Homo sapiens: one gene and its partner. The protein of the gene in region 2 interacts with the protein of the main gene of each other region in a biochemical or structural test. Each region holds a gene or a part of one and is shown on either strand. Other genes may lie near its edges.

The links. The genes of interacting proteins can lie anywhere in the genome.
Region 1: the proteins of SP1 (region 2) and E2F1 form a complex in vitro, tested with the Homo sapiens proteins (4 studies listed by BioGRID and IntAct).

Annotation. Positions count from the first base shown.
Region 1 is NC_000020.11:33,679,762-33,683,507, reverse strand, and holds part of E2F1 (transcription factor E2F1), read left to right. Parts: intron 1-3,091; coding exon 3,092-3,182; intron 3,183-3,533; coding exon 3,534-3,746. UniProt on the Homo sapiens protein: Transcription activator that binds DNA cooperatively with DP proteins through the E2 recognition site, 5'-TTTC[CG]CGC-3' found in the promoter region of a number of genes whose products are involved in cell cycle regulation or in DNA replication.
Region 2 is NC_000012.12:53,404,050-53,407,795, forward strand, and holds part of SP1 (transcription factor Sp1), read left to right. Parts: intron 1-2,535; coding exon 2,536-2,704; intron 2,705-3,746. UniProt on the Homo sapiens protein: Transcription factor that can activate or repress transcription in response to physiological and pathological stimuli.

The DNA.
Region 1 (3,746 bases), on a different chromosome or scaffold from region 2:
AGTCACCATGCCCAGCTGAAAACTTAACTCTTAACTCTTTTTTTTTTTTTTTTTTTTGAGATGAAGTCTCGCTCTGTCACCTAGGTTGGAGTACAGTGGCGCCATCTCGGCTCACCGCAACCTCTACCTCCTGGGTTCAAGCGATTCTTCTGCCTCAGCCTCCCGAGTAGCTGGGACTACAGACGTGCACCACCATACCCGGCTAATTTTTGTATTTTTGGTAGAGATGAGGTTTCACCATATTGGTCAGGCTGGTCTTGAACTCCTGACCTCAAGTGATCTGCCCGCCTCGGCCTCCCAAAGTGCCAGGATTACAGGCGTGAGCCACTGCGCCTGGCCAAAAACTTAACTCTTAAGAAACTAGAAAGTTGACGGCAGGATCCCAGCCCTATTCATTTTTTTCCTTTTTTTCCCTAAGGCTATTTTTGTTTGTGGTGGTTGTGACAGTTTTTGTTTTTTAAAGTTTTAAAAATTGTAGTTTTTCCTGTATCATTCACACCATTCAGATATGGCACTGGTCTCCCACAGTCCTTCCAGAGGCTGCCCCGAAATGTATTCTATAATAATATAAACTGAACCAGAGAAAAGTTTCATGAGCTTTTTAATCCAAAAGGGATCATATAAATATATCGCCCTGTGACAGTGTTTTGCTTGTCTGTATGTGTGAGGGGATTCTTGTCAACCTGCCTCGGTCCTTGACAGCTGCGTGGTGTTCAAGGGGCTAAACAAAGCACAGCTTTCGTGACCCCCTTCATGGATGGGTGTTCGAGTCATCCAGATTTTTTCAGCAGTGAATGTCTTCACCCCTGCGTTTCGGGGCCCCTCTGCCAGTGTTTATCTAGGGAGAAGTGGCAGAAATGGCATCCACTCAAGCCTTTGTTTTAGGGCGTGGCACTGACCTGCCTTCAGGGGTGGACAAGGGTGGGGATCCCAGGGAGAAGGCAAGGGGTGCAGATGGCAGAAGCATGCTAGGGTTTGGGCCCCAGGGGCGAGTATGGAGGGGGATACATTCTGGCTGGGTTCTGGGGAGGTGGGGCACGTGGCGGGTATGAGTGTGGGCTCTGTACCAGCCAACTAGGGTGCAAGTCCTGGGTCCACCTCTCACTGTGTGGCCTCTCTCAGGTGGAGGCCATCATAGCACCTGCCAAAAGGTGGCCGGAGGGTTGCAGGGGAAGCAGTTGAGTACACAGTGCTTAGAGCACAACAGCTCTTCTTTCCCCTGGGTGCCTTCAAAAGTCAGTGAATGTGCACAAGAGGGAGTGGTTCATCAGCATGGGGGGGGTTCATTCAGCAAACATTTGTTGATGCCAGGCTCCATGGCAGACACTATAGATTCTCAAGTGATTCAGACACCTCTGAGGGTGAGATAGATACATCTGCAGAAATGTGTAGGGAGAGACAGAATGTGGCAAAAGGTTGGGTTTGAGGCAGTTCAGAGGGAGAAGAGGTGACACCTCCTAGCTGATGCGTAAGGTTTCTGCCCACAGAGGTAGAGGGAGCAGGCGTGAAGTGGGGAGGGTGGGAGGGATGCAAGGGCAGTCTAGATTTCTGGGAAAACGTGACTCGGGTTCCTCTAGAGAAGCAGTGGCAGATGAGAGTACAAAGGCAATGGGGAGCTGGAGGAAGGCCTTAAGCAGGGGCGGCGGCATGGTAAGGTTTGTAGGAGGACTGGCTGCAGCAGAGGCAGGGAGACCAGTGTGGAGTCTGCTCAGCAGCCCACTGGGAAGGTGGTGATCGCCGTGGTGATGAGCAGTTCTTGGTAGCTGCATGTGAGGAGGGTGACAGGTCAGGAACTCTAGCTCAGGAAACCCTGTGGATGGTGGAGGGGAAGATCAGTCTGGTTTTGGTCCGGGTACTTTTGAGCAGCCTGTGAGACCTCCAGGACAGTCCCAATCCTGGAGTGTCTGAACTAAGCCAGAGTGCTTAGAGCTTGGGTTCTTCCTCAGACCGTCTTGGGTACAAATCCTGACTCTACCACTTCCTGGGCCTCCCTGGGCTTTAGTTGCCTTATCTGGAAAATGGGGCCATTTTTATACAGCCAGTCCGTTGAATGGAATGAACTAATGGATGCAAGGAACTTGATGAGCACCAGCTGCTACCATGCGTATAGATTAGTCAAAAACCAGAGAGAAGGTGATTTAGCCAAGGGACCTATGTAATCAGTGGCTTAGCTGGGCATGGTGGCTGACTAGTCCCAGCACGACTACAGTGAAGGCTGAGATGGGAGAATTGCTTGAGCCTAGGAGTTTGAGACCAGTCTGGGCAACATAGGGAGACCCCATCTCTACGAGAAATAGAAAAGTTAGCTGGTCTTGGAGGGATGCGCCTGTGGTCCCAGCTGTTTGGAAGGCTGAGGTGGGAGGATTGCTTGAGCCCAGGAAGTCTAGGCTGCAGAGAGTTGTGATCATACCACTGCACTCCAGCATAGTCAACAGAGCGATACCCTGTCTAAAAAAGAAAAAAAAATAGTGCCTTAAAACAACAAACATTTATTATATAGTTTTTGTGGGTCAGGAATTCAGGGAAGACTTATCCAGCTCTGGCTTGGGGTCTCTGGAGATTCAGCCAGTGTTTGGGTTCTGGCTGCTAACAGAAGTTGTGACTAAGTGTTGCTGTTGGGAGGAGGCCATGGTTTCTTGCCCATCATTAGGGCTACTTGAGTGCCCATATGATATGGCAGAGTAAGTGACCCAATACAGAGCAAGGAGGAAGCTCCAGCGCCTCTGACCCAGTCTCAAAAGTGACAGGCCATCCCTTCCACCACATTCCATTCATTCATCCCCAGAAGCAAGTTACCAGGTCTGGCTCATAAGGGGAGAATTAGGCTATATCTTTTGAAGGAGAAGGATCAGAAAGTTTGCGGATGTGTTTTAAATCCACCGCTAGACCCCAGAGAAGTGGTGAAAATGGAATGTCCTGTGTGGTAGGACTGTGACTCTCAGGCTATGTCCCCTCTGATCTCCCTCAGTCACACACTCAGGCATCCTGCTAGAGAAACTGAGGCGAGGGTAGCCCAGAGGCACCCAGCCTTAAGCCAGGTCTCTTCTGGCCTCACTCCTGGTTACTGGGCATCCTCCCGTTTTCGCCACAGGTGAAGCGGAGGCTGGACCTGGAAACTGACCATCAGTACCTGGCCGAGAGCAGTGGGCCAGCTCGGGGCAGAGGCCGCCATCCAGGAAAAGGTACCTATGGAGCTTGGGCTGGGCAGACCCCCTGTGACCAGGCCCAGGTTAGGGATGTGAACAGACAAACATGCTTGCAAGCTAACGTCTGGCTTGTCGGGCTTGAGCCAGGCCTCTGAGGACCCTGATGGGCAGTTGGAGTGGCCACCTGGCTTGGTTTCTCCAGGCCCTGAGGGGTGAGGAGTTCCCCAGCCAGAAGAAGAATGCTGTGGTTGGCCTCGCCAAGGGGAAGGAGCTGGCTGTCCCCCAGCCCCCATCATCCTGCTGCCCTGCACTGCCAGAGTGGCAGGCCTGGCTGGAGGTGGGGGTGGATGCTGAAGGGCCCTGTCTTGCCTGACCACACCCCCACAGGTGTGAAATCCCCGGGGGAGAAGTCACGCTATGAGACCTCACTGAATCTGACCACCAAGCGCTTCCTGGAGCTGCTGAGCCACTCGGCTGACGGTGTCGTCGACCTGAACTGGGCTGCCGAGGTGCTGAAGGTGCAGAAGCGGCGCATCTATGACATCACCAACGTCCTTGAGGGCATCCAGCTCATTGCCAAGAAGTCCAAGAACCACATCC
Region 2 (3,746 bases):
AGTCCCACCTACTAGGGAGGCTGAGGCAGGAGAATGGCGTGAACCTGGGAGGCGGAGCTTGCAGTGAGCCGAGATCGCGCTACTGCACTTCAGCCTGGGCGACAGAGCGAGACTCCGTCTCAAAAAAAAAAAAAGGAAAGAAGTCTTGAGAAGAATATTATCTGCCACTTTATAAGATATTACTTTTGCGAAGAATATTATCAGCCGGGTGCGGTGACTCACGCCTGTAATCAGCACTTTGGGAGGCCAAGGCGGGCGGATCACAAGGTCAGGAGTTCGAGACCAGCCTGTCGAAGATGGTGAAACCCCATCTCTACTAAAAAAATACAACAAAATACAAAAAGTAGCCAGGGGTGGTGGTGGGTGCCTGTAATCCCAGCTACTCAGGAGGCTGAGGCAGGAAAATCGCTTGAACCCAGGAGGCGGAGGTTGCAATGAGTCAAGATTGTGCCATTGCACTCCAGCCTGGGCAACAAGAGTGTAACTCAGTCTCAAAAAAAAAAAAAAAAGAATATTATCTGTCACTTTTTACCAGTGGCCTAGAGCTGTGTTTGAAAATGTCAAATGTGACCAACTGAGTCATGATGAGAGTCTAAAGCATTTTAGCATACACTGTTTATTTATATATATTTTTTTGAGTTGGAATCTTGTTCTGTTGGCCAGGCTGGTGTGCAGTGATGTGATCATAGCTCACTGTAGCCTTAAACACCTTGGCTCAAGCAATCTTCCTCCCACCTTAGCCTCCTGAGTAGCTGGGACCATAGGCGCATGCCACCATGCCCAGCTAATTATTATTATTATTTGGCGACGAAGTCTCGCTCTGTCGGCCAGGCTGGAGTGCAGTGGCACAGTCTCGGCTCACTGCAACCTCTGCCTCCTGGGTTCAAGCAATTCCTGTCTCAGCCTCCCGAATAGCTAGGATTACAAGCGTACTCCACCATACCCAGCTGATTTTTTTTGTTTTGTTTTTGTATTTTTAGTAGAGATGGGGGTTTTACCATGTTGGCCAGGCTGGTATTGAACTCCTGACCTCAAGTGATCCAACCACCTCGGCCTCCCAAAGTGCTGGGATTACAGGCGTGAGCTACCATGCCCAGCCTATTATTTATTTTATAGACAGAGTGTCCCTATGTTGCCCAGGCTGGTCTTGAACTCCTAATCTCAAGCAGTTCTCCTGCCTCAGCCTTCCAAAGTGCTGAGGTTACAGGCAGAACCACATGTAAATATATGGGCATTGCTGGTTCAAATTAGATGTACATTTAAATATTTTCAAACTGGCCTTCAAAAAGTTGTATTAATTTATCACTATTTGTGTATGAAAATGTCTCTTTCCGGCTGGACATGGTGGCTCATGCCCACCCGTAATCCCAGCACTTTCGAAGGCCGAGGCGGGTGGATCACCTAAGGTCAGGAGTTCGAGACAGCCTGACCAACATGGTGAAACCCCATCTCTCCTAAAAATACAAAAAAGTTAGCCAGTCATGGTGGCATATACCTGTAGTTGCAGCTACTTGGGAGGCTAAGGCAGGAGAATCACTTGAACCCAGGAGATGGAGGTTGCAGTGAGCCCAGATAATGCCACTGTACTCCAGAGCCAGCGAGACTCTGTCTCAAAAAAAGAAAGGAAAGAAAAGAGAGAGAGAGAGAAGGAAGGAGGGAAGGAGGGAGGGAGGGAAGGAAGAGAGAGAGGGAGGGTCTGTTTTCCTGTACCCTTACCAATGCCGTATGTTATTAGGGTTTCAACTTTTGGTAATCTGATAGGTGAAAAATTACAAATGCGTTATAAGTGGAGTTGCATTTTAAAAACTATGATCGGGGGAGGGATAGCATTAGGAGATATACCTAATGCTAAATGACGAGTTAATGGGTGCAGCACATCAGTATGGCACATGTATACATATGTAACCTACACGTTGTGCACATGTACCGTAAAACTTAAAGTATAATAATAAAAAAAAACAACTATGAGATTTGATCAGATTTTTACGTATTTATTGGCTCTTGGTATTTTCTTTCTTTTTTTTTTTTTTTTTTTTTTTTGAGACAGAGTCTTGCTCTGTCACCCAGGCTGGAGTACAATGGTGCAGTCTCGCTAACTGCAACCTCCGCCTCCCGGGTTCAAGCAATTCTCCTGGCTCAGCCTTCCAAGGAGCTGGGATTACAGGCATGCGTACCATTCCCAGCTAATTTTGTATTTTTAGTAGAGACGGGATTTCTCCGTATTGGTCAGACTGGTCTTGAACTCCTGACCTCAGGTGATCCGCCCACCTCGGCCTCCCAAAGTGATGGAATTACAGGCGTGAACCACTGCGCCCAGCCACTCTTGGTATTTTCAATGATGATTCTTGAGATTTCAGTGAGTCTTCAGGTGTCAGTGAATGGAATGGCTAAACATAAAAAGGCTTCAAAACTTGTGATACTGTGAATGTAGGATGTCAGTTCAAAAGAAATGATGTTGTGACTGTAGGGTATCACTGAGATGCCAGTGATAACCTGCCCATGTCACATGTTGACCCTTTTCTCTCTTAATTTCAGGTGATCATGGAGCTCAGCTTGGTCTCCATGGGGCTGGTGGTGATGGAATACATGATGACACAGCAGGTGGAGAGGAAGGAGAAAACAGCCCAGATGCCCAACCCCAAGCCGGTCGGAGGACCCGGCGGGAAGCATGCACCTGCCCCTACTGTAAAGACAGTGAAGGAAGGTGAGTTGACCCAGCCAGTTTCTTACAAATATAAAGAAAAATTAATAGATTTGGAGATAAGAGGAAGAAGATTAATTTTTTTTTTTTTTGAGACCGAGTCTGACTCTGTTGCCCAGGCTGGAGTGCAGTGGCGCAATCTTGGCTCACTGCAAACTCCACCTCCTGGGTTCACGCCATTCTCCTGCCTCAGCCTCCCGAGTAGCTGGGACTACAGGCACCTGTCACCACACCCAGCTATCTTTTTTTATTTTTAGTAGAGACAGGGTTTCACTGTGTTACCCAGGATGGTCTCGATCTCCTGACCTCGTGATCTGCCCGCCTCGGCCTCCTAAAGTGCTGGGATTACCAGCGTGAGCCACCATGCCCGGCAAAGGTTAATTTTTTTTTTTAGGATTTAAGACTCAGAGCTGGATGCATATAATCCCAGCACTTTGGGAGGCCAAGATAGGAGGATCACTTCAGCCCAGGAGTTTGAGACCAGCCTCAGCAAGAAAGCGAGAGCCGATCTCTACAAAAATTTAAAAATTATGTGGGAATATTTTACTGGCCATAAAAAGAGAAAATGAAAAAAAAAAAAATTTTTTTTTTTTCTGAGACAAAGTCAGTCTGTGTTTCCCAGGCTGGAGTGCAGTGGCACATTCTTGGCTCACTGCAACCTCCACCTCCTGGGTTCAAGCAATTCTGCCTCAGTCTCCCGAGTAGCTGGGACTACAGGCGTGTGCCACCACGCCCGGCTAAGTTTTTCTATTTTTAATAGAGACAGGGTTTCACCTTGTTAGCCAGGATGGTCTTCATCTCCTGACTGTGTGATCTGCCCACCTCGGCCTCCCAAAGTGCTGGGATTACAGACGTGAGCCACTGCACCTGGCCAAAAAAATTTATTTATTTATTTTTTTGTTTTGAGATGGAGTCTTGCTCTGTTGCCCAGGCTGGAGTGCAGTGGCACAATCTTGGCTCACTGCAGGCTCCGCCCCCTGGGTTCACGCCATTCTCCTGCCTCAGCCTCCCTAGTAGCTGGGACTACAGGTGCCCGCCACCTCGC